Linked DNA regions of Homo sapiens. Changing the gene in region 6 together with the main gene of any one other region gives a genetic interaction. Each region holds a gene or a part of one and is shown on either strand. Other genes may lie near its edges.

Region 1 (3,500 bases), on a different chromosome or scaffold from region 6:
CTAGCATCTTCTTGGAAATGTGAATCTTCAGGTACATGGTTAGGCCTAACTCAATTCTCTTGGTGGACCAGTATTAAGTTTGCCTCCATGGAAAATTGGGAGCAGCAAGGATTCAAGTACACAAGCTTGGGATGCCATATACAGGTTCCTCTAGTCAACATTTAATGCATCTATAAATGCTTTGTAAACTCTAATGCAGTATGAAATATAATTCTTAGTAATGTTATAAAAATAGTACGAAAAATCTATATGGAATCTAGAAAAACAAGAGCCAAATATTTTTTTTTATTATTATTTATTTCTGAGACGGAGTCTTGCTTTGTCGCCCAGGCTGGAGTGCAGTGGCGCGATCTCGGCTCACTCCAAGCTCCGCCTCCCAGGTTCATGCCATTCTCCTGCCTTAGCCTCCCGAGTAACTGGGACTACAGGTGCCCACCACCACACCCGGCTAATTTTTTGTATTTTTAGTAGAGACGGGGTTTCACTGTGTTAGCCAGGATGGTCTCGATCTCCTGACCTCGTCATCTGCCAACCTCGGCCTCCCAAAGTGCTGGGATTACAGGCGTGAGCCACCGTACCCGGCCACAACAGCCAAATCTTAAGAGTGTGTCACAATAAAGGAGAAAGAGTACTCTGACAATTAGGTGTAGGTATTCCAGTGTCCTGGCAAGTAAAATCAACAATAAATATTTGCATCGTGTCTCATAGTTTCCAAATTGCCTTCATAGCTGTCCTCTAGTAGAAATAAAATTAATAGTTTTGAGAAAAACAAAACTGAGGTATTAAAAACTTAAGCAGTTTGGGCCAGGCACGGCGGCTCATGCCTGTAATCCCAGCACTTCGGGAGGCCGAGGTGGGCGGATCACGAGGTCAGGAGATAGAGACCATCCTGGCTAACACAGTAAAACCCCGACTCTACTAAAAAATACAAAAAATTAGCCGGGTGTGGTGGCGGGTGCCTGTAGTCCTAGTTACTTGGGAGCCTGAGGCAGGAGAATGGCGTAAACCCGGGAGGCGGAGCTTGCAGTGAGCCAAGATGGCACCACTGCACTCCAGCCTGGGCAACAGTGCAACACTCCATTAAATAGAAAAAGTTAAGTAGTTTGGGCCAGGCACGGTGGTTCATGCCTGTAATCCCACCACTTTGGGAGGCAGAGGCGGGTGGATCATGAAGTCAGGAGTTCAAAATCAGCCGGACCAACATGGCGAAACCCCGTCTCTACTAAAAATACAAAAATTAGTCGGGCATGGTGGCGCATGCTTGTAATCCCAGCTACTCAGAAGGCTGAGGCAGGAGAATCGCTTGAACCCGGGAGGCAGAGGTTGCAGTGAGCCGAGATCGGGCCACTGTACTCCAGCCTGGGTGACAAAGCAAGACTCTGTCTCAGAAAAAAAAAAAAAAAAAAAAGCAGTTTGTCCAAAGTCACAAAACTAGAGAATTGTGAAGAAGGAATTCTAACCACAGTCTTTCTGACTCCAAATCCCACATTTCCTGTAAGTTGGTAAGCTATAATCAATTCTGATAGTTTAATCATTGATGAATGAAATGATAAACTGAAATTTTTGAACATGTCAATATAAACACCAAGGGTGAGAAAATCCATGAGGTACAACCTGAGCAGCCAGCTTGCATGTCTGTGCATCTTCACTATAATGCTATCTCATAAGGCTATTGCTATAGTACTCTTCACTCTTTTCCAGATATGGATAAGAAAAATATTGAACAAAATTAAAAGTCAACAAGCTACTGTTCAAAAATACTTTTCCATTGAAAATAGTTAACAAAGATGTTGTATCTTTAATGTACTATTGACAGTACCTTTCTATGAATGGACAATATTAATATTAATAAAATAAGATGCTTTTCTAGATGTAATGTTTGTGATTTGGTTAGTGGGCCTCCTGATTGTTTTTAAAATAAACTTCTTATTCTGAAATAATTCTAGATTTACAGAAAAGTAATCACCCCTTACTCAGTTTTCCCTAATGTTAAAATCCTGTTAACCTACCATCCATAATTACCATGATACATTTGCAAAACTAAAAAAGAAAATCAGTATATTATTACTACCTAAACTCCAGACTTACTTAGATTTCACCAGTTTTTCCACTAAGTCCTTTTTCTGTTTCAGGATCCAATTCAGGATACTACACTGCATTTATTTTAATTTTTTAATTTTTTAATTTTTGAGATGTAGTCTCGTTCTGCTGTCAGGCTGGAGTGCAGTGGTGCAGTACTGGCTCACTGCAACCCCCATATCCCCAGTTCAAAGGATTCTCCTGCCTCAGCCTCCTGAGTAGCCGGGATTACAGGTGCCAGCCACCATGCCCGGATAACTTTTTGTATTTTTAGTAGAGATGGGGTTTCACCATGTTGGCCAGGTTGGTCTCGAACTCCTGACCTCATGATCCACCCACCTTGGCCTCCCAAAATGGTGGGATTACAGGTGTGAGCCACCGCCCCCAGCTACTACACTGCATTTAAGTCCTTAGTCTCCTTAGTCTTCTCTGGGCTATGAGAGTTTCTCTGCCCTTACAGCATGAACGCAGTAAACAAATAAGCATGGCTGTGTCTCAATAAAATTTTATGTATGAACACCAAAATATAAATTTCTTATAATTTTCCCAAGTACTAAGATAATTTTTTCTTGATTTTTTTCAACCATTTGAAAATGTGAAAACCACTTTTGGCCTCTAAACAGTACGAAAGCAGGCAGCAAGCTGAATTCAGCCTGCGGGCTATAGTTTGCTGACTTCTTTTCCAGAGTCATTTCTATGATAGACATGTGGCTGGTTAATTAATTTTAAAATTAATAAAACAAAAAGATAAATCCCTGAATACAATTTATGCTTATTTCATATAGCTAACATTGGATTTGTCTCTATGAAAACTCAAATTGCACAGAACCAACTTGCCATAGTAGTTAAAGTACAGGAAATGAAGGGTGGGGAGTAGAATTAGGTAGCTGATCTAGAGGGTAAGGGCTGATGTGCTACCCAGAAAGGAGAAGTTCTCTGGGCACCTCAATTCCTGCCATGCCTTGTTCCATTTAGGGTAGGATAATGGCAAGGAAGAATTGGAGAAGCATTAGTTAATTAATAACATAAAAATAGCCTAGTATAGAAGAACAGAAAGAGAATTACACTGGCTTGGAAAAAAAGGGAAAGCTCTCATCTGTATTCCTTAAGAGAATAGAAGAGAGCGGCCGGGCGTGGTGCCTCACGCCTGTAATCCCAGCACTTTGGGAGGCTGAGGCGGGCAGATCACGAGGTCGGGAGATCGAGACCATCCTGGCTAACATGGTGAAACCCCGTCTCTACTAAAAATACAAAAAATTAGCTGGGCGTGGTGGCAGGTGCCTGTAGTCCCAGCTACTCGGAAGGCTGAGGCAGGAGAATGTGTGAACCTGGGAGGCGGAACTTGCAGTGAGCTGAGATCACGCCACTGCACTCCAGCCTGGGTGACAGAGTGAGACGCCATCTCAAAAAAAAAAAGAGAA
Region 2 (3,500 bases), on a different chromosome or scaffold from region 6:
TCGTGATTCGCCTGCCTCGGCCTCCCAAAGTGCTGGGATTACAGGTGTGAGCCACCGCGCCCAGCCCCGTAAATTTTTAATAAACGGTATTCAAGGGCCAGGCGCGGTGGTGGCTCACACCTGGAATCCCAGCACTTTGGGAGGCCGAGGCGGGCGAATCACGAGGTCAGGAGATCAAGACCAACCTGACTAAAGCAGTGAAACCCCGTCTCTACTAAAAATACAAAAACTAGCCGTGCATGGTGGCACTTGCCTGTAGTCCCAGCTACTCAGGCGGCTGAGGGAGGAGAATCGCTTGAACCCAGGAGGCGCAGGCTGTAGCGAACCCAGATCGCGATCGTGCCACCGCACTCCAGCCTGGGTGCACTCCAGCCTGGGTGACAGAGCGAGACTCACTCTCAAAAAATATAAAATAAAATAAACTTTGAAATAGACCTGCTATGTACCCACAAAAATTAAAAATTAAAACTCTGGCCGGATGCAGTGACTCATGCCTGTAATCCCAGCACTTTAGGAGGGCAAGGTGGACAGATCACTTGAGGTCAGGAGTTCAAGACCAGCCTGGCCAACATAGTGAAACCCCGTCTCTACTAAAAATACAAAAATGAGCCAGGCATGGTGGTGCATGCCTATAATCCCAGCTGCTTGGGAGGCTGAGGCAGGAGAATGGCTTGAATCCGGGAGGCGGAGGTTGCAGTGAGCCGAAAGTGCGCCACTGCACTCAAGCCTGGGTGACAAAGCGAGACTCCGTCTCAAACGAGAAAAAAAAAAATACTTCAAGTGTATCTTACAAAACTGACAAAATACATTGTACTTATCCGCAAGGTAACTTCATAATCTTTAATAAGCACAGGTTTCCTAAAGGAGTCATATAATGTACTGCACTTTTTTTGTACACGGTAAAGCAACATAAAAAAATAATGACCGGCTGTGCACGGAGGATCACACCCATAATCTCAGAACTTTGGGAGGCCGCGGCGGGTGGACCACTTGAGGTCAGGAGTTTGAGACGAGCCTGGCCAACATGGCCAAACTCCATCTCTACTAAAAAAATACAAAAACTACCCAGGCAGAGTGGCACACACCTGTAATTCCAGCTACTCAGGAGGCTGAGGCAGGAAAATTGCTTGAACCCAGGAGACAGAGGTTGCAGCAAGCCAAGAGCGTGCCACGCACTCCAGCCTGGGTGACCCAGTGAGACTGTCTCAAAAATAATAACTACAATCTGTATTTTACAGATTAACTAAACAATGCCAAACTCTATAGCTGAAAAAGACAATGTCCTTGAAAAAGGCTGTTCAGATGGAACCAAATCAACATTTCAGGTAAATATACATATATATGTAAACATATATGTAAATATATAGATGTAAATATATATATATTTTTTCTTTTTTTTAAACCGAGTTTTGATCTTGTTGCCCAGGCTGAAGTAAAATGGCGCGATCTCAGCTCAGCACAACCTCCGCCTCCCGGGTTCAAGCAATTCTCCTCCCTTAGCCTACCGAGTACCTGGGATTACAGGCATGCGTCACCACATCTGGCTAATTTTGTATTTTTAGTAGAGATGGGGTTTCTCCATGTTGGCCAGGCTGGTCTCGAACTCCCAACCTCAGATGATCCGCCTGCCTCGGTCTCCCAAAGTGCTGGGATTATAGGCGTGAGCCACTACACCTGGCCTCAGGTAAATATTTATTTTTTTTTTTTTGAGAGAGTCTTGCTCTGTCACCTAGGCTGGAGTGCAGTGGCGTAATCTCGGCTCACTTGCAGCCTCTGCCCACCGGGTTCCAGCGATTCTCCTGCCTCAGCCTCCTGGGTAGCTGGGATTACAGGCGCACGCCACCACGCCTGGCTAATTTTTGTATTTTTGGTAGAGACGGGGTTGCACCATGTTGGCCAGGCTGGTCTCAAACTCCCGACCTCAGGTGATCTGCCCGCCTTGGCCTCCCAAAGTGCTGGGATTACAGGCGTGAGACACCATGCCCGGCCTATATTTTTAATAACTACAGTGAATATAGGCCGGGTGCAGTGGCTCATGACTGTAATCCCAGTACTTTGGGAGGACGAGGTTAGAGGACTACTTTGAGTCCAGAAATTTGAGACCAGTCTGGGCAACACAGTAAGACCCTGTCTCTATTTATGTATTTATTTTTTGAGACACTTTCGCTCTGTAGCCTAGGCTGGAGTGCAATGGCCCGATCTCAGCTCACTACAACCTCCACCTCCCAGGTTTGAGTGATTCTCCTGCCTCAGTCTCCTGAGTAGCTGGGACTACAGTCATGTGCCACCACACCCGGCTAATTTTTGCATTTTTAGTAGAGCAGAAGTTTCACCACATTGGCCAGGCTGGTCTCGAACTCCTGACCTCAGGTGATCCACCGGCCTCGGTCTCCCAAGGTGCTGGGATTACAGGTGTGAGCCACAGCCCCCAGTCTCAGTCCAATTTTTAATAAACTATAAAATATTTAATTCTGATTAGATTTTTTTTCCAAATCATCCTACCAAATTACCAAACATGAAAATGCATGTAGGCCAGGCACAGTGGCTCATGCCTGTAATCCCAGTACTTTGGGAGGCTGAGGCTGGCGGATCACCTGAGGTCAGGAGTTCAAGCCCAGCCTGGCCAACATGGTGAAACCCCAGCTCTACTAAAAATAACAAAAATTAGCAGAGCGTGGTGGCGGGTGCCTGTAATCCCAGCTACTCAAGAGGCTGGGGTAGAAGAATCACTTCAACTTGGGAGGCCGAGGTCACACCACTGCACTCCAGCTTGGGCAGAAGAGCGAGACTCCATCTCAAAAAAAAAAAACAAAAAACAAAAAACAAAAAAAACACTGACTCCTAATTAAGAAATTTTAATTTCTATGTCATAAACAATTAATCTGGTTTTTTTTTGTTTTTGTTTTTTGTTTTGTTTTGTTTCGTTTTGTTTTGAGACAAGGTCTCGCTCTGTTGCCCAGGCTGGAGTGCAATGGTGCCAACACAGTTCACCGCAGCCTCGACCTCCTAGGCTCAAGTGATCCTCCAAGGACCCTGCCTCAGCCAAGTAGCTGGGACTACACGTGCATGCCACCACAACTGATGTATTTTTTTGTTTTGTTTTGTTTTGAGACAGGGTCTCATCATGTTGCCCAAGCTGGTCTCCAAATCCTGGGCTCAAATGAACCTCCCACCTGGAATTCCCAAGTGCTGGGATTACGGACGCAAGCCACTGCACCTGGCCCAATTAATCTTTTGATCAAAAAAAGTCTATTATATTTTATTTAAGAAAACAAAAATTTATTAGTCTCAAAATATTTCAAGTAAGAGTCAGTGTGGGCCAAGTGTGGTGGCTCACACTTGTAAGCCCTGCACTTTGGGAGGCTGAGGCAGGCAGAGAGCCCAGGAGTTCGAGACCAGCCTGGGCAACACTGCAAAACCCTGCCTCTACTGATAATACAAAAAATTAACCAGGTGTGGTGGTTCGTGCCTGTAGTCCCAGGTACTCAGGAGGCTGAGGT
Region 3 (3,362 bases), about 21 Mb from region 6:
AAGGGGGAGGGCGTGGCGCGATTCTCCACGCTGCTTGGCGCCTGGGAACGCCGCTATCCTGGGAAGGGTAGGCGGGGGCGGGCTGGGGGGAGATGCCCTGGCTTGATAGAGCTGGGGGGCGCACCCCACCCTGAGTCCCTACACAGAAGCCGGTTTGTTCATTCCTCTGCCACAGGGCTCAGCTGCAGAATTTTTGCGACTTCCCTGTCACCCTCAGAAGCAATGGGGGCTGCATTGTTCAGAATATAATTTTACAAGCCCCAAAAACTAAAGCCATGAGGGCCCATGGGAGGTGTCTAGGTTTGAACCCAGGGACTTCCTGGAGGTCAGCCTTCCTGTCCATCACAGCAGCTACAGTTCAGCCTCCTGGAGTCCAACCAGGGGGATGGCCCCAGAGCCTTGCTGTAGGCCTAGCCCATCCTGGGGCAAGTGCTCCAGGCGCCTCCTCCACTGGGTCCGCCGTAGTCTGAATCATAGATTGGGGTGCGGGCCCTGGATCTCTCGAAGTGTGGCCTGGAGCTCTTCCCAGAATGTCAGTGGTCTCCTGCCACCACCACCTGTGCGTGGAGCTGAGAGCAGGCTCATGGGAGTAGACTTCTAGTGCTTCTCCATGGGGACAGGGTCTACCACCAAAGCCACCCAGCCTGGAAGCCCAGGGCTGTAAGGAAGGGAGAGGCAGCCGTGTTCACCCCACCTGCCTCCTGTGGGAAGTCCGCGTTGGATCCTAGCAGTGTCAGAGAACACAGGACCCAGGCTGCACCCTCACCAGGACCCCTCCCAATCCCAAGGCCCCAGCAAGGATGAGGCTGGCTGTGGCCCCGCGGGTGGGCTGCATGCTTTAATGGGACACAGGCTGCTGCATGGCCCCCGCGGGCTCAGCTTGTGCCTGGCTTTGAGCAGCCACAGGCAGAAAATTGCTGCATTGTCCCGACATTAGGGCAACTAATGCGGCGTTGCGGGTATAACCAGAGCATGAAGTGCATAAAGAGGCGTCGCCTTGGCATCTTCATCAGTCCCGAGGGAGCCCAGAGCCCTGTCATAGTCAGTGAGGCAGCCTGTGGCCAGCTGGCCCATGTACCTCCCCAGTAGGTGACCCCTGGAATGCTTGCACTCCAGGGTATCAAGGACTTGGCAAGTGGGACTGGAGAACTTACGGGGATTGGGACAGGATGGGCATGGAGGGGGTGGGCATGGCAGGGGTCCTCAGACTGGGGAAGTGGTGGAGGCCAGAGAGATAAGGAAAAGACAGATAAAGGGGAGGGGGGGGTCCCTCGGGAGACAGGGGGGGTCCTGAAGGTGAGAGGAAGCCTAGGCTATGGGAGGGGGCTGAGGGAAGGAGGTGGGGAGCTTCCCAGTGCGTCCTCCCTCGGTCCCCTCCTCCTCAAGGTTTCTAGAGTCCAGAGGGCCTCATTGACATGTAAACGAGGGTCCCTATAAAGGCGGCGCTGCCTCGCACTGGTGCATGGACTGCAACATGGGCACGGAGCCTGCTGCCCGGGGCAGCCTCCCCGGCAACTTCCGAAAGGTCTGGGGTCTTGAGGGACTAGGGGCAGGCACCCTTCCCCGGGAGGTGTGGGGGGGTGCCGAGGGCAGGAGGGTGGCAGTCCTGCACTCTAAAGGCTGTTCATCTGCAGATTTCCAAGCCGCTGATGGAGAAAAAGCGCCGGGCACGCATCAATGTGTCACTGGAGCAGCTCAAGTCGCTGCTGGAGAAACACTACTCGCACCAGGTGAGACTCAGGCGGGGTGGGGGTGGGTGGGTGATACGATCCCAACCTCCCTCTCTCCACCTCGGGAGGCCGGTCTAATAGACCTTTCCATGGTCGGGTAGATCCGGAAGCGCAAATTGGAGAAGGCCGACATCCTGGAGTTGAGCGTGAAGTACATGAGAAGCCTTCAGAACTCCTTGCAAGGTATAGGGGAGGGCTGGAGGGAGGAGGGGGAGGCTTGTGGGATCAGAGCCAGGGATGCACAAGGCCAAATAAAGAGGGATACCTCAAGGACCGCTTGACCCCGGGCTTTTGAGACCAGCCTGGGCAACATGGCAAGACAGCAAATATAAAGAGGACAACTCGGAGGCAGGTGCAGTTGGTGAGGAGGGGGCCCCAGCTCGCTAGGGGGCGAGGGAGGAGCAGTAAAGCCCGGGCTGGCTGTGCGATTGCAATCTGGGTGGTAGGTCTGGACCCCGGGGGAGACGTTCGGGTCGTCTGACCTCCGCCCTCCTCTTCCCTTCCTCAACACGCTTCCTCCCTCCTTTCCCCTCCACCTCCACTCCCCTCTCCTCCCTCCCTTCCTCCCCTCCCCTCCCTCCCCCTTCCCCTCCTCTCCCTCCCCCTCCCCTTCCCCTTCCCTCTCTTCCCCTCCCTGTTTCTCGCGTCCGCTCTTCCCCACAGGGCTCTGGCCTGTGCCCAGGGGAGCCGAGCAACCGTCGGGCTTCCGCAGCTGCCTGCCCGGCGTGAGCCAGCTCCTTCGGCGCGGAGATGAGGTCGGCAGCGGCCTGCGCTGCCCCCTGGTGCCCGAGAGCGCCGCCGGCAGCACCATGGACAGCGCCGGGTTGGGCCAGGAGGCGCCCGCGCTGTTCCGCCCTTGCACCCCTGCCGTCTGGGCTCCTGCTCCGGCCGCCGGCGGCCCGCGGTCCCCACCACCCCTGCTCCTCCTCCCCGAAAGTCTCCCTGGCTCGTCCGCCAGCGTCCCCCCGCCGCAGCCAGCGTCGAGTCGCTGCGCCGAGAGTCCCGGGCTGGGCCTGCGCGTGTGGCGGCCCTGGGGAAGCCCCGGGGATGACCTGAACTGAAGGCGCTCCCTATTTGGTCTCGCGACACAGGGACTATTTTCAGCACGCCCACAGTGACTGCCAGGACCCCCCAGTCGTCCGTTCTGGTCGTGGGGCGGGGGTGGCTTGGAGAGGGCCGCGCACCCCGCAAGCGCAGGGAAATACCCCCAGCCCTGCCGGACTGGGTCTGCGCGTCTGGGCATAATCCACCCCCACTCTAGCTCCACCTACACACGCCGGACCGCTCGCTCTCCGCCCATCCTCCGGAGGGGCTGGGAGGGGGTGTCCTGGGCTGCGCCCCTTTCCCAGGGACCCCTGGCGGGCAACCCGCCCGCCCCCACCCCCGCCCGGTTGCCGCGCAGCGGTGGGAATGTCGCAGTTGGCAACAGCGCAGAGCTGACCCCTCGCAGCGAGGAGAATCGCTGCCCCGCCCCGGACCATTCAGCGGACCGCGGGCGCCCGGTTCCCACCGGCACAAAGCGCGCCTGGCCCCGCCCCGCCGGCAAGGGGCCCCCAGCCTCCCCCAACCCGGGATCCTCTTGACTTCCAAGGACCTCCTTCGCAAGCGGTGCTGCCCACCGGGCTGGCGCAT
Region 4 (3,500 bases), on a different chromosome or scaffold from region 6:
ATCACAGGTGGAACAGATTCAATATGAGAAAATGTAGTGGGAGTTGGAGAATACAGTTTTTCGAGGGCAGAGGGGGCTGGCTTGCCCTTTTTACTATTATGTACACTACTACTACGTTAAGATAACAAGCATGGTTTTTATGTTTCTTAAAACTATCTTCTAAAATATAACAGTAAAACAGAGTAAAAAGATACCTTAAGAGAAGCATGGAATGACCCACAACCCTCTTAATAAAGGAAGAAAATCACAATACTTAAGGAGAGACAACTGCATCAAATATTACCATGCGCTAAAATTAATCTAACAAACTATGTACACCTCTAGTTAATTGTTTTCCCAAACTTTAGGGGGAAAGATGTGAAACTCTCTAATTCAGCATAAACAGATCAATCCCATTTTTGCCTGAGCTTCCAAAGTTCTGACAGCCTAACTATTCCACTGTGTCAGGAACAGTGTGCAGTCTTAAAGTACTGCATCCACACAACCTGAACTTTCCTGCAATTCATGTTTTTGTTTTTAATTGTCCTAAACACTATCAAGGGAAAAAACAACATTGGGGTTTCAGGAAAGAACTACGGTTTGCCAGAGAGAACAAGATCTCTACAGGTATTATAAAGTCTCAATGATTCAACGTCTATAAAGTTTCTTTATATGCCACTATTTCTTAGTACCTTACCAGGTTACTTTGTTTTAGATGACCTGTACTATGGCCCAAAAATGTTAACTTTCAACAAGACTCATGGCCAGGCGCAGTGGCTCACACCTGTAATCCCAACACTTTGGGAGGCCAAGGTGGGCGGATCACCTGAGGTTGGGAGTTCGAGACCAGCCTGACCAACACGGTGAAACCCTGTCTCTAAAAAATTAGCCGGCGTGGTGGCACATGCCTGTAATCCCAGCTACTCGGGAGGCTGAGGCAGGAGAATCGCTTGAACCCAGAGGTAGAGGTCGCGGTGAGCCAATATCGCGCCAATGCACTCCAGCCTGGGCCACAAGAGCGAAACTCCGTCTCCAAAAAAAAAAAAAAAAGAAAAAAAGGATTCATGACCTAATTACTTCTACCTGCTTAGCCATCTGCGTGATCCATCTTTCCATCATGGTTTCAAGCAAGTCTTATTATTCTGTTGCTTTTTTTCCTACAGCAGTATTCAATGCTGTCACACAGGTTAACTCTCCCAGCTCTATTTGGAAGTCTGTATTAGACAGCAACAAGCAACAACAGACTTATCACTGACTACATTTCCCGGGTTTCTCCAGCAATACTAAAATCCCTTAGCCAAGAGTGCCTTCTTATGACAGGTCTGGCCTGGGGAGATAGAGATCCACCTGCCCACTGGCTGCACTCTGCTGGTCCTGCCTCTTAAAGTGCAAGGGACCTGAGGGACGACAGGCAGAAGGTCAAGTCTTACATCCATCCTCTCCCACCATCTACAGCAAACCAAGTAAGAAAGGTGTCAAGGGAGGTCCCAGGTCCCATGAGAACTAACCCAACAATTTCCCACCTTACTTGCCTGTCATGGACCATTAGAAATATAACAGAATTCTTAAGACACAAGAACTTCCTCTTTGACTTCAGAAGAGGAAAAAAACACGTACAACACATAAGTGTAAAGCGATAAATTCTAATCAACACTGCAGAAAGATATGTCATTTTAACACCAATAAGCTCAAACTAACTTTCTAAAAACATTTTCTAGGATAGGTTAGCTGACAGAAATCGCCCATATTAAGTTCTTAGCTTACATTCTATTAAACATTTCTAGAGCAAGCTGTTTACTGTAAGACAAAAAACAGTATATCTGGACCTAAACCTAACCGTGAAAAATGGGTCCACAGGCACCCTCTTAACCATTTTTCCAAAGAAATATGTTTAAACGGCTTTACCATGCAGAGCTATGGCTTCCCGGAAGGGTTGCAAATCAGTCTCTACAGATGAGCTAGTTTCCGTTGAAGTAGCTCGGTTAGGGGACACTACAGTCAGTCTTGGGGGAGCTCTAGAGTTTCGTGGTGGAGGAACTTTTCCACACAGGAAGCTGATCAAATCTTCTCGACGAATAGTTCTTCTGCGTTTTTTAACCCAAGCCAACACATCCTTATTGCGTCGCTGATAGCCAATCTGAATTCCAATATCAAAACTTCGTTGATGGGTATCCACGCTTTCTGTTAGAAAAAAAGAAAAAGAAAACATGTATCATGACCATTAGAGCCCGTATTCCCTTCTAAAGAAAACCATTTTACAATTTAACCAAAGTGAATACCATGATGTGGCCTCTGAGCCCATCAGTAATATAAACTGAAATGATTTCAGTCATAATGAAAATGTTATATGTAACATTTAATCTTAATGGTCTAAATTCAGTGTTTACTTATCACAGTCCTGGAGCTTGGCTTGTTAAAAAAAAAAATTTAACAGAAACAGAGAGATTAGGTATCTTTAATGAAATTACCTAAAATAACTTGCATCACATCATTCAACAGATGTCTAAATATTGCACATGCCTCAGGCCACGCTCATCTGCATTTACCACGTCATTGTGGAGATACATTCCTACTGACAGATTCAGCACCAAGAATGAGGAACAAGCTGAAGGCAGCAGCAAATGTTTTAGAAGGAAAAATTAATTCTGACTGATGGCTCAACACTAAAACCAAATAGCATGGTGGAAAACAAAAAGCTTTATTCATTTCCCTGGGTATACTCATTTTGCTTCCAGTTCTCAACAGCTTCCTGTAACTCAACCATTCCCAACAGATCTCCTAGACTAAATTCTCTGCATATACTCCACCTGGGTTTTGGTAAAATGATCTCTACCTTTTAGTGGTTTCATTTAGTTGAAAAAAAATTTGAAAATTTAAGTGACTATTATTTAGTTTTAATTGAGCTGCTGTGCCAGCAGAACATCACCAGTATGTCTTTAATGGCATTAACCAACATCGTTACTTTATCCTTGAACTTTCCGTAAAAGCAACAATACTGTGTACATTTCTCTATTACTTTTCCCGGCTTTGATTATTTCGTTTTATTTTATTTTTTGAGACGGAGTCTCTCTGTTGCCCAGGCTGTAGTGCGATGGCTCGATCTCAGCTCACTGCAACCTCCGCCTCCAGGGTTCTCCTGCTTCAGCCTCCTGAGTAGCTGGGATTACAGGCGCACGCCACCATGCCTGGCTAATTTTTCTATTTTTAGTAGAGACCGGGTTTCACCATATTGGTCAGGCTGGTCTTCAACTCCTGACCTTGTGATCCGCCTGCCTCAGCCTCCCAAAGTGCTGGGGATTACAGGCGTGAGCCACTGCAACCGGCGGCTTTAATTTCTTGTCTGCTACATCTACAGCAGACTCTCAAAGGATGGGCAATAGTCAAACAATGTAAAGCTATGTTCCAGAAAAAAAAAAAAAAAATCATCCAGACATCACAGAGGATGCCAAGCTGAATTTGCACTATTAAAGAAAATGGCAAGAGGGAAGCACAACAACCAGAACTTTATAATAAGGCCTACT
Region 5 (3,500 bases), on a different chromosome or scaffold from region 6:
GAGAGACTCAGCACATCTTTCTTTGGGGAGGGCGAGGCAGCCATGCTGTCAGGGGGGCCAGAGGCCAAGGGATCCTTGGAGTCGCTGGACGGAGCCCTCCTCCGGAGGCAGATACCAGGGCTGGGCGGGGTCCGAGGACCTTGGCTCTCGGGGGGGTCTATGGTGATACTAGGCGGGCTGAGTTTTTTCTTGGGCCGGCTCCCAGGCCCCCCAAGAGGCTGGCCCCCAAGGTTAGAGGGGTCTGTGCCCAGGTGGGGTTGGGAGCCGCTGTCCAGGCAGCTGACGGCGATAGAGTGTCTCCTCTGCTCATCCAGCCAGGACGTAGGCCGGCGCTGGCAGCTCTGGGCCTCCACGCTGTAGCACTTCTTCAGGTCCCGTGGGGATGGGGGCTCCTCCTGGCCGCCAGGGGGCAGGAGGTCTCCTGAAATCCAGCTCAGCTCCGTGTCCAACTCTAAGCTGCTTCTGGTCTCTGGAGGGCCCTTGCCCCAGTTGGGTTCTGGGCCTGGGCAAGGGGCTGGCGGGGTCATGTGCTTGGAGATCTTGCTGTGGCTGCGGGAGTGCTGCTGTGCCTGGGTACTTGACTGGCCCCAGAAAGAGTAGGCCCGGGCCAGGGGCGGGGAGGGCCCACTCACCTCTGCCAGCAGGTCTTCCCGGCTGCCCAGACCCTGAACGTCCAAGGAGTCAGTCCTTATTGCTGCCTATATGGGGTGGGGGAGGGCTCAGCCCAGCAGTCTCCTCTCCAGCATGGACTAGCCCTCCTGTCAAGCTGGCTGTGCCCCCTGCCCACCACCACCAGGCACAGCAGGACTATCCTAAGCAGAGGTCCTGGTAGCCGCTCTTACTAGTAGATAGGGGTCATTGCAGCCTGACCTCTGTTGTCCACCATGCCTCCTCTCTCCCCACTAAACCCTGTCTTCCCTCCCCCATGCTCTGGTCTCCCCTAAGCCTGCAAGAATCGCTCTCTCTGCAGCCCCTGCCTCCTGGGATATGAGAGAAGCCAGGCCATCTCTGCTCACTGAGCTGGCTCCTTCACGCCTCCCCGCCTCTGCCTAGACTTCCCCTTTGGCTCTGAATACCCTTCCTGATTGGCAAGAATCCCTCGATTTTACGGACTCAGGTTCTCTGTGACACAGTGTGTGACAGTCTCTGTCCCCAAGTAAAACCGACCCCTTCCCCTTCTGTGTCCCTGCTGCCCTCCACACATAGGTGTCTGGCAGCTGTGAGCTGAGGCTGCAATGATCTGATGGCAGGCATGTCTCCACTATTAGACTGTGAGCTTCAGGGGGCAGGGGCTGTGTCGCCAGTGCCTGGCACACAGAGGCTGCTTAGTGACTATTTGCAGAATGAATAAGGACTGTGCCTGCTCCCCCAAGCATGTGGGATTGAGATTCTCATGTGTCCACGCTCATGCCTCAGGACACACACATGGCATGGGCTGTGGCCTTATCACAGGTGGGCTCTGGGGCCGGGCGCGGTGGCTCACGCCTGTAATCCCGGCACTTTGGGTGGCCGAGGCGGCCAGATCATCTGAGGTTGGGAGCTCGAGCTCAGCCTGACCAACATGGAGAAACCCCATCTCTACTAAAAATACAAAATTATCCAGGCATGGTGGCGCATGTCTGTAATCCCAGCTACTCGGGAGGCTGATGCAGGAGAATCACTTGAACCCAGGAGGCGGAGGTTGCGGGGAGCCAAGATTGTGCCATTGCACTCCAGCCTGGGCAACAAGAGCGAAACTCAAAAAAAAAAAAAAAAAAAAGAATCTGGGCTCTGGAAGGTGGGCCCTAGGCTTGGCCAAAAGTGAAGACACTTAAAACCTGCCTTGTGCCCCATAGCTCAGTCCAAAGTGGGGAGAAGAATTGGGAGGCAGCTCTGGTTGGTGAGGAAGGAAAGACCAGAGACTGGGGTTCTACCTCCGACCAGATAGGCATGACCCTGGGCAAGCACTACCCCTTCTGGTCTCCAGGCCTCCTCAGTGGAACAAGGAACTGGGTGCAAATTTCAAGAAGGCACAGACCACTTCTGCTTTGCCCAGTACTGTGTCCCTGGTATCTGCAACTGAGCCTGGCACATCACTGGCACACAATAAATATTTGCTGGAAGAATGAAAGTGTCAACACAGGTCATCACCAGCAGCAGAGGGTCCAGCCCCCAGGCCTGTGCCTGCCTTTCCACATCTGCTCACCTGGCGCCTGAGTGGCCTCTGAGCCAAAGGGGAGCGTCCTGGTGGGGGCAGTTTGGGGATGGTGCCCCAGGTTGGGGCGCTGTGGGGCTGGAGCAGATGAGGTGCATCTTTGGGAAGCTGCAGGATGTAGCTGGTATCTGCTGGCTGGGAGTGAACGGACAAGACGGAGCCTGTGGAGGGAGGGAAGCGGGGGAGGGGTGGGGGGAGAGAATGGAGCTGGAGGGTTCAGGGGAGCAGGTTCTCACCTGAGCCCTCCCTTCCACTCTCTCCCCCTCATCAGGGCCTCTACCCTTACCCCCTGGACTCAAAGCCATTCCCCCAGGCTGGAGGCTCCCCTGAGGTCAGAGATACCTCTTTGGCTGCCTCAGTTCCCCATCCCCTCAGATCAGGACTGGCTTAGGCCAGGATGGAATCTCCCTGTGTGAGCCAAATTGGCCTGCTCTAGCCCTGGTACCTGACTGAGCTTTGGGGAGCCCCCAGCCCCTGTGTCCCAGGGGCCCCTCGGCAGTGCTCCCATGCCGACACATGTAGCTGTCATTGGGCAGAGAGTGCGTTCGGCTGACCCCAGACTTCCGCACAGTCAGTAAGTCTGGTCCTGGCAGCTCCGTGGGGTGGGGCTGCATCTGCAAAAGGAACAGGGGAGGGAGGTGGAGGAAGAGGGTGTGCGTGGGTTTGGTAACTGAGGCAGCGCTGACAACAGAAAGCAGCAGCGCCCCCCGCCCAGCCCTCACCCCCGTGCCCTCCCAGGACAAGGTAGAGATGGGCATGAGCATGGCTGGGGAGAGGGGCAGACACATGGATGAGCCCTCCACACGCGGGGAGGAAGCAGGTAGGAGGGGGTCTGGGCAGCCGGGAGAGTCTGCAGGCCCTGCCCCCCACCCCCTGCAAAACTGCACACATTGTATCACCTTTAAGCTCCCACTGTGGTGGTGGAGGGGCGGGGAGGTATCCAGAGAAGGGAGAGCAGCCCCCAGCCCCCAGCCCTGCAGGTGGCTCACAAGCTGATTCTAAAGGCCCCATTTAGAGGCTCTGAAGGGAGTCCCGGTGTCCACAGGGATGGGCTGGGGCCCTGACCCAGAGCAGCTCAGGGGAGGATTAAAAGCTAACAGCAGGCCAGGCACAGTGGCTGGTGGCTCATGCCTGTAATCCCAGCACTTTGGGAGGCCAAGGTGGGCAGATCGCTTGAGCTCAGGAGTTTGAGACCAGCCTGGGCAACATGGCAAAACCCCATTTCTAAAAAAAAAAAAAAAAAAAAAAAAAAAAAAATTAGCTGGATATGGTGGCGTGGCACCTGTAATCCCAGCTACTCCAGAGG
Region 6 (3,500 bases):
ATATAGAAAATCAGATAGAGACTCCATGCAAGTGGCTGCTAAAGAAAATGTAGATGGTAAAGTCCCAGGATAAGGATGGAGAGCATTTGTTCGCATTGTATAAAGCTAATAACTATATGGATGCTACCCACAAATAGGTTATATGCAGAGGAACCCCCAGATGCCCCAGTACAGTTCCCCCCAGCCCGGCTCAGCCTTATCTCCGCGTCAGCCTTCCGGAGGACAGATACACACAGGCATGGGCTCCTACCAGCAGAACTCCATGGGGAGCTATGGTCCCCAGGGGGGTCAGTATGGCCCACAAGGTCAGTATACTACCCAGTTAGGAGTAGATACGGGTGAGAGGAGAAAACAGTTCCTTGTCTGATATGTTGCCATCTAGCTTGTAACCTTGTGAGAGAAGGGCTGTCCTTTGCCTTTAATCCACCCAGCCCAGGCCCTGAAGTAGGGCAAGGCAAGATTCCATTTGTCTCCACTTATTCTGTCACCATGAGAAAGTCTTTCAATTTCACTGAGCCTCTGTTTCATTTATAAAAATGGAGATTAGGTGTTTACTCCACCATTGAGCACAGACAATTTATACATGGTAGCTCTTGGTTATTATTTTTTTATTAATTATTTTTAGTGAATAAGTCATAATGGAATAGATCTTTGCTCAAAATTGCAGCCCTAGGCTGATCAAAAGTTGAGAATCTTACACAGAGCATGGAAATAGAAAGGAAGTTATCTTCTTCTGGAAGTTGAAATGCCTGTGTGGCAGCAAAGCCAGCCTTGCTCTGACCTGCCTTTACATGCTTCTGGAATCCCCCCCTTTTTCTCATGGCGATAAAGGCTACCATGAAGTTGATCTCTTTCCTAACCAAAATATTGAATGACATTGTTTGGTGTTCTAGAGTTGAGAGATATTAGTGAGTTGCTAGTGAGTGACTAACCAAGTCTTGTCTTCCTCCCCTCCCAGGTGGCTACCCCAGGCAGCCAAACTATAATGCCTTGCCCAATGCCAACTACCCCAGTGCAGGCATGGCTGGAGGCATAAACCCCATGGGTGCCGGAGGTCAAATGCATGGACAGCCTGGCATCCCACCTTATGGCACACTCCCTCCAGGGAGGATGAGTCACGCCTCCATGGGCAACCGGCCTTATGGCCCTAACATGGCCAATATGCCACCTCAGGTTGGGTCAGGGATGTGTCCCCCACCAGGGGGCATGAACCGGAAAACCCAAGAAACTGCTGTCGCCATGCATGTTGCTGCCAACTCTATCCAAAACAGGTAAGGCCTGGGAAGCAGAGAGGGTGTCAGTGCAAGAAAATGTATTATAGACCCACTCAGATTATTGAGATGCTTCTGGACCTAAACCAGGGGGGGAAAATGGGTGTGTGTGTATGAAGTGTTAATTCTTACATACCTTAGATGGGTCTGAAATTTCACGTGACTAAACATCATATGTAATGAGCTTTATAAAAGACAGGTTTTTGGCCGGGCGTGGCGGCTCATGCCTGTAATCCTAGCACTTTGGGAGGCCAAGGCGGGCAGATCATGAGGTCAGAAATCAAGACCAGCCTGATCAACATGGTGAAACCCCGTCTGTACTAAAAATACAAAAATTAGCTGGGTGTGGTGGCGCACGCCTGTAATCCCGGCTATCGGGAGGCTGAGGCAGGAGAATCACTTGAACCCAGGAGGAAGAGGTTGCAGTGAGCCAAGACTGCGCCACCACACTCCAGCCTGGGCGACAGAGCGAGACTGTCGAAAAAAGGGGTTTTGTGGGGTGTTTTATTTTGGGGTCTTTTGAGACAGGACCCTGCTCTGTTCCCCAGGCTGAATTGCAGTGGCATGACCACAGTTCACTGCAGCCTCGACCTCCCAGGCTCAAGTGATCCTCCCACCTCAGCCTTCTGAGTAGTTGGGACTACAGGCACACACCACCACACCCAGCTAATTTTTTTTATTTTTTATATTTATTTATTTATTTAGAGACTGTCTCACTCTGTTGCCCAAGCTGGAGTGTAATGGCACACTTTCAGCTCACTGCCACCTCTGCTTTCCAGGTTCAACCAATTGTCCTGCCTCAGCCTCCCAAGTAGCTGGTGTTACAGGCACCCGCCACCATGCCCTGCTAATTTTTATATTTTTAGACTGGGTTTCACCATGTTAGCCAGGCTGGTCTCAAAATCCTGACCTCCAGTGAGCTGCCTGCCTTGGCCTCTGAAAGTGCTGGGATTACAGGCATGATCCACCATGCCCGGCCTTTTTTTTTTTTTTTTAAATAGAGATGGGGTCTCAGTGTGTTGCCAGGGCTAAAGACTGCTTATTTTGATGTGCAAAATAAGTGTTCAGAGTAGGTGGTTTAACTTCTATCAGTCAACTTTTTGGTTTCCAAAAGGATTCTTAATGATACATATGTCTTGGATCTTTGGTGTTAGAAATAGCAAATGGTAAGCTTGTGGTTTGCCATTTCTCCTACTGTTTTATGTGGTCCTACGTGTTGACTCTGGTGCTAGAGTACAGAAGGCTCATGTGATTAGGTTTAACAACTTCTTTAGCCACTAAATCTTACTGAGTTGTTGTTGATGAACCAAGGTAGAATAGGGCGATTGACTATAAAGAGGTGGATTTGGTAGAACTTCAGAATGATGGAAGTGCAAAGTTTGCATTGGGCCCCTCAAGAAATAATGCAAAGCCACCTCTGGGTGCTATGCTGAGGGTTCCAGTCTGGTTGGGATTTAGCATGACAAAAAGTGGTACAGTTCAGCATTTCATCTATGCCTTTTGCCACAGACAGGGCCCTTAAATGGAAATACAACTTGACTTTGGAGGTGGCTTTGAGGAAGGCAGTACTTAAAGGACACAGCAGGGCTCTGCTTCAAAGAATTACACCCTTTGAAATTGAGCTATTGTGGCCGGGTGCGGTGGCTCACTCCTGTAATCCTAGCACTTTGGGAGGCTGAGGCAGGTGGATCACCTGAGGTCAGAAGTTCAAGACCAGCCTGCCCAGCATGGCAAAACCCCATCTCTACTAAAAATACAAAAAAATAGCCAGGCATGGTGGTGGGCGCCTGTAATCCCAGCTACTCACGAGGCTGAGGCAGAATGGCTTGAACCTGGGAGGCGGAGGTTGCAGTGAGCCGAGATCATGCCATTGCACTCCAGCCTGGGAGATGAGTGAAACTCCATCTCAAAAAAAAATTGGCCGGGCATGGTGGCTCACCCCTGTAATCCCAGCATTTTGGGAGGCTGAGGCAGGCGGATAACGAGGTCAGGACATCGAGACCATCCTGGCTAATACGGTGAAACCCTGTCTCTACTAATAAAGTACAAAAAATTAGCCGGGCGTGGTGGCAGGTGCCTGTAGTCCCAGCTACTTGGGAGGCTGAGGCAGGAGAATGGCGTGAACCCGGGAGGCGGAGCTTGCAGTGAGCTGAGATCGCGCCACTGCTCTCCAGCCTGGGCAACAGAGCGAGACTCCATCTCAAAAAAAAAAAAAATTGAACTATTGTT
Region 7 (3,000 bases), on a different chromosome or scaffold from region 6:
TATTATATATTTTATAATACATGTCACGTTCTATTGAGTGGCACAGGGTGAGACTCTTGAGTGTGTCTTTTTCTTGTATAAAGAGTTGAGAACTCACTTTGCAGAATATCACAAAGGAATCTGGAGGCTTGGGGCTATGTCTTTTTCACCACTGCTTCCTCCACAGTGCTATCACAATGCTTTGTACATAAATGCTTAATAAATGTTCACTAAATTTGAGAGGTTATACAGAATATACACAAAACCTCTTGATACAACATATAGATACTGTATAATATAGTTACATAGTTTCAAAATCAAGAATATTTTATTCAATGAGGTAGATAAAAATATAACTCAAAGGTAAGGCATTTTCAAAATGTCCACGTATTATGGAATTTAAAATGTATCCTAGTTTATGTTGTCAATGTTAAATGTTTTCATAACTCATATCTATTCAAGTATTTTTCAATGTTTAGAAAAAAGATTTTTATTTAGCCAAAATAACCACTAAAAAGATGTAAGGCAAAATACTTCATTTTATTTCTTAAATGCCTGAATATTTATAATCATATAAATTTTCATGCATTATATAATTTATGAGCTACTGTACTTTCACATTAATTAAAAATATTAGGAGACTCTAATTTAACCACTTCTGAAGAAATGAATGGCTGATCAGAAAATGTCAAATTACTATCATAAGCCCAAGATTTTATCATAATCATGAATAGCATTTAATCATGAATATCATTATTTAACTTTTAAAACCATACTTACAGTTTTAGATTAAAATCCCATATTGAGTCAACAAGACTTTACTCCAAATTATAGTCACATATGGAAGAAAGGTTTTAATTCAATATTTTATTATAGTCCACGTATAAAGATAATTTTCATGAGGGTTACATGATGGATAGCTAGCAAAAGAAATATGCTAGCACAGGGTGGTAACTGCCAACTAAGCATGCACTGAACCAACAGACTACTTCAGTAAGTCCTTGATTATTGCCAGCTTTTCTATAATGTTCAGGTTCTCAAAGGTCACTGAATTTTATAATTATCTCCAAACAATTTTCTTCATGGTCATTTAAGCTTTGTCTAAACAGCTGGGTGTGTTGCCAAGCGACATCACCATCTCCTCTGCTTAATTCTGCTTCCAAAATAACTTCAGTGGCACCAGAAAAATCAGCATAGGAGTGAAGACTGTTATCTGTTAGAGGGAAAAAAAAAATTAACATTTTGCTTTTGGTAATTTAAAGAGCACAGATCATTTTGAAATGTATTTTATATAGGCTGATGTATAAGTTAAAATAAACCCTTAAAAATAAATACAAATTATTCTTTATGGAAGAAATGCATCCTTTGAAACAAAGAAATGATTTTTTCCTTGCATTTGTATTTCACAACAGAAAACATCAGCCTTTCTGTTACAATGGGATCACACAGGGTTTATTAAATTTTTTTTTTTTTACTGAAATAGTATTAATAACTCTTAGGTACGAAAAAGAGCTACATCTCAAATAAGTACAATTAGTCTTCAGAGTGGTAAATATATATTTCGTGATTAATTCTCCAGGCAAATGCTTACCGCCTGTCAGTTCTACTTGTGCTGTATCAGATCGCAATTTCCATTCTACTGTTCCAGTCTGAAAAGTTTGACTACTTGTTCTAATAGAAATGCTATCTACTTTTAGGCCAACTGACCCACACTCAAACTTCCAGGAAATATAAGCAAAAGATGATCCTTCCTTTCGGGCCAAATATACCTATAAGGAGTAGGGATGGGGAGAAAGGAACTGTCAGAAAAAATGAAATAGTATAGAAAACAAACTTAGTGAAGAATATTACTGTCACAGGGTAGTATGTACAAGTGGTTATTTAAAAACTAACTTTTCCCTGTTGAAAAGGTTCTTACTGCTAACATTTTTTTTGGCAATTTTTCCCATGGCATCTTTTACCCTAGAAGACAGGTATTATTTGAATGCAGATGTCCCCAAAAAGTGCAATTCTAAAGGACTGCATTCTAACCAAATTTTGGTAAATCATCTTCTTTTATATTAAGAAGTTCAACTCTTTAAAATGAGTTTTATGACTAATCCTGCTGAAAATGAAGAATCCTTTTAAATGCAACTACTCTTTAATTTTTATAAGTCTGGATTTTCATATACGCTTTCCTAGTGTGACATGGTATGCTATAGTCTCTAAATCGAGAAAATACCTGAGCCACTGCTAACTAATGGTTTAAAAGGTGATATCCATGCTCACTTCTCTAAATAGCATGCTCCCTGTTCCTTCATCAACGCCCTTTAGCACATTAAATGTATACTATTTAAGGCATCTAAGCCTACTGGCTGCTTCCAGCTCATCCCCTCTCATACTTTTATCTACACTCCTCAAAACATTGCCATGAAAACTGACATCCACAGCCTTGGTCTTTCACAGGTCACTCTATTCAACCATGCTCAAACTCTTAAGACTCTGACGCTTCAGTCGTTCATCCCTTACGTCTGAATTCCCACAAAATTCTATGTATTTGTTTGAAATCTTGGAAAGAAACCCCTTCCTCACTAATACTGCACTTACTACTACAGTTTGAACTTTACACTTATCTTAATGCAATTGACTACTGTTGTACAATTCCAATTGCTCTGACCATATTTTTATTTTCAAGTGTATTATTTTAGACACAGGGTCTCACTCTGTCACCCAGGCTGGAATGCAGTGGTGCAATCATAGCTCACTGAAGCCTTGAACTCCTGGGTTCAAATGACCCTGTTGTCTCAGCCTCCAACTACCATGCCTGGCTAATTTAAAAAAATTTTTTAGAGGCAGGGTCTCACTATGTTGCCCAGGCTGGTCTTGAACGCCTGCCTCAGTCTCCTGAGTTGCTGAGATTGTAGGTGTGAGCTACCGTGCCTGGCTCTGATCAGATTAATGTTTTAAAATCCCACTCTCTTTATGTTATCTGCCTGGTCTGAAATGTACAGCAAGTACTTGGTTCTTACATTAAGTCTAATC

Evidence for each region.
Region 1: changes in ARID1A (region 6) and GOLM2 together harm fitness more than expected from each alone (negative genetic interaction), as found in Homo sapiens cells (one large-scale study listed by BioGRID).
Region 2: changes in ARID1A (region 6) and SMARCC1 together harm fitness more than expected from each alone (negative genetic interaction), as found in Homo sapiens cells (one large-scale study listed by BioGRID).
Region 3: changes in ARID1A (region 6) and HES3 together harm fitness more than expected from each alone (negative genetic interaction), as found in Homo sapiens cells (one large-scale study listed by BioGRID).
Region 4: changes in ARID1A (region 6) and HAPSTR1 together harm fitness more than expected from each alone (negative genetic interaction), as found in Homo sapiens cells (one large-scale study listed by BioGRID).
Region 5: changes in ARID1A (region 6) and CACNA1G together harm fitness more than expected from each alone (negative genetic interaction), as found in Homo sapiens cells (one large-scale study listed by BioGRID).
Region 7: changes in ARID1A (region 6) and NGLY1 together harm fitness more than expected from each alone (negative genetic interaction), as found in Homo sapiens cells (one large-scale study listed by BioGRID).

What each region holds. Positions count from the first base shown.
Region 1 is NC_000015.10:44,333,719-44,337,218, reverse strand, and holds part of GOLM2 (protein GOLM2), read right to left. Parts: intron 1-3,500.
Region 2 is NC_000003.12:47,775,394-47,778,893, forward strand, and holds part of SMARCC1 (SWI/SNF complex subunit SMARCC1), read right to left. Parts: intron 1-3,500. UniProt on the Homo sapiens protein: Involved in transcriptional activation and repression of select genes by chromatin remodeling (alteration of DNA-nucleosome topology).
Region 3 is NC_000001.11:6,242,717-6,246,078, forward strand, and holds HES3 (transcription factor HES-3), read left to right. Parts: upstream 1-1,462; 5' UTR 1,463-1,525; intron 1,526-1,634; 5' UTR 1,635-1,649; coding exon 1,650-1,730; intron 1,731-1,831; coding exon 1,832-1,913; intron 1,914-2,393; coding exon 2,394-2,791; 3' UTR 2,792-2,862; downstream 2,863-3,362. UniProt on the Homo sapiens protein: Transcriptional repressor of genes that require a bHLH protein for their transcription.
Region 4 is NC_000016.10:9,101,644-9,105,143, reverse strand, and holds part of HAPSTR1 (HUWE1-associated protein modifying stress responses 1), read right to left. Parts: intron 2,161-3,500; coding exon 1,885-2,160; exon of another isoform or gene 1-1,884. UniProt on the Homo sapiens protein: Acts as a central player within a network of stress response pathways promoting cellular adaptability. The E3 ligase HUWE1 assists HAPSTR1 in controlling stress signaling and in turn, HUWE1 feeds back to promote the degradation of HAPSTR1.
Region 5 is NC_000017.11:50,623,215-50,626,714, reverse strand, and holds part of CACNA1G (voltage-dependent T-type calcium channel subunit alpha-1G), read right to left. Parts: intron 2,809-3,500; coding exon 2,640-2,808; intron 2,356-2,639; coding exon 2,186-2,355; intron 699-2,185; coding exon 1-698.
Region 6 is NC_000001.11:26,762,015-26,765,514, forward strand, and holds part of ARID1A (AT-rich interactive domain-containing protein 1A), read left to right. Parts: intron 1-137; coding exon 138-305; intron 306-958; coding exon 959-1,271; intron 1,272-3,500. UniProt on the Homo sapiens protein: Involved in transcriptional activation and repression of select genes by chromatin remodeling (alteration of DNA-nucleosome topology).
Region 7 is NC_000003.12:25,718,444-25,721,443, forward strand, and holds the end of NGLY1 (peptide-N(4)-(N-acetyl-beta-glucosaminyl)asparagine amidase), read right to left. Parts: intron 1,749-3,000; coding exon 1,571-1,748; intron 1,193-1,570; coding exon 1,017-1,192; 3' UTR 501-1,016; downstream 1-500. UniProt on the Homo sapiens protein: Specifically deglycosylates the denatured form of N-linked glycoproteins in the cytoplasm and assists their proteasome-mediated degradation. Cleaves the beta-aspartyl-glucosamine (GlcNAc) of the glycan and the amide side chain of Asn, converting Asn to Asp.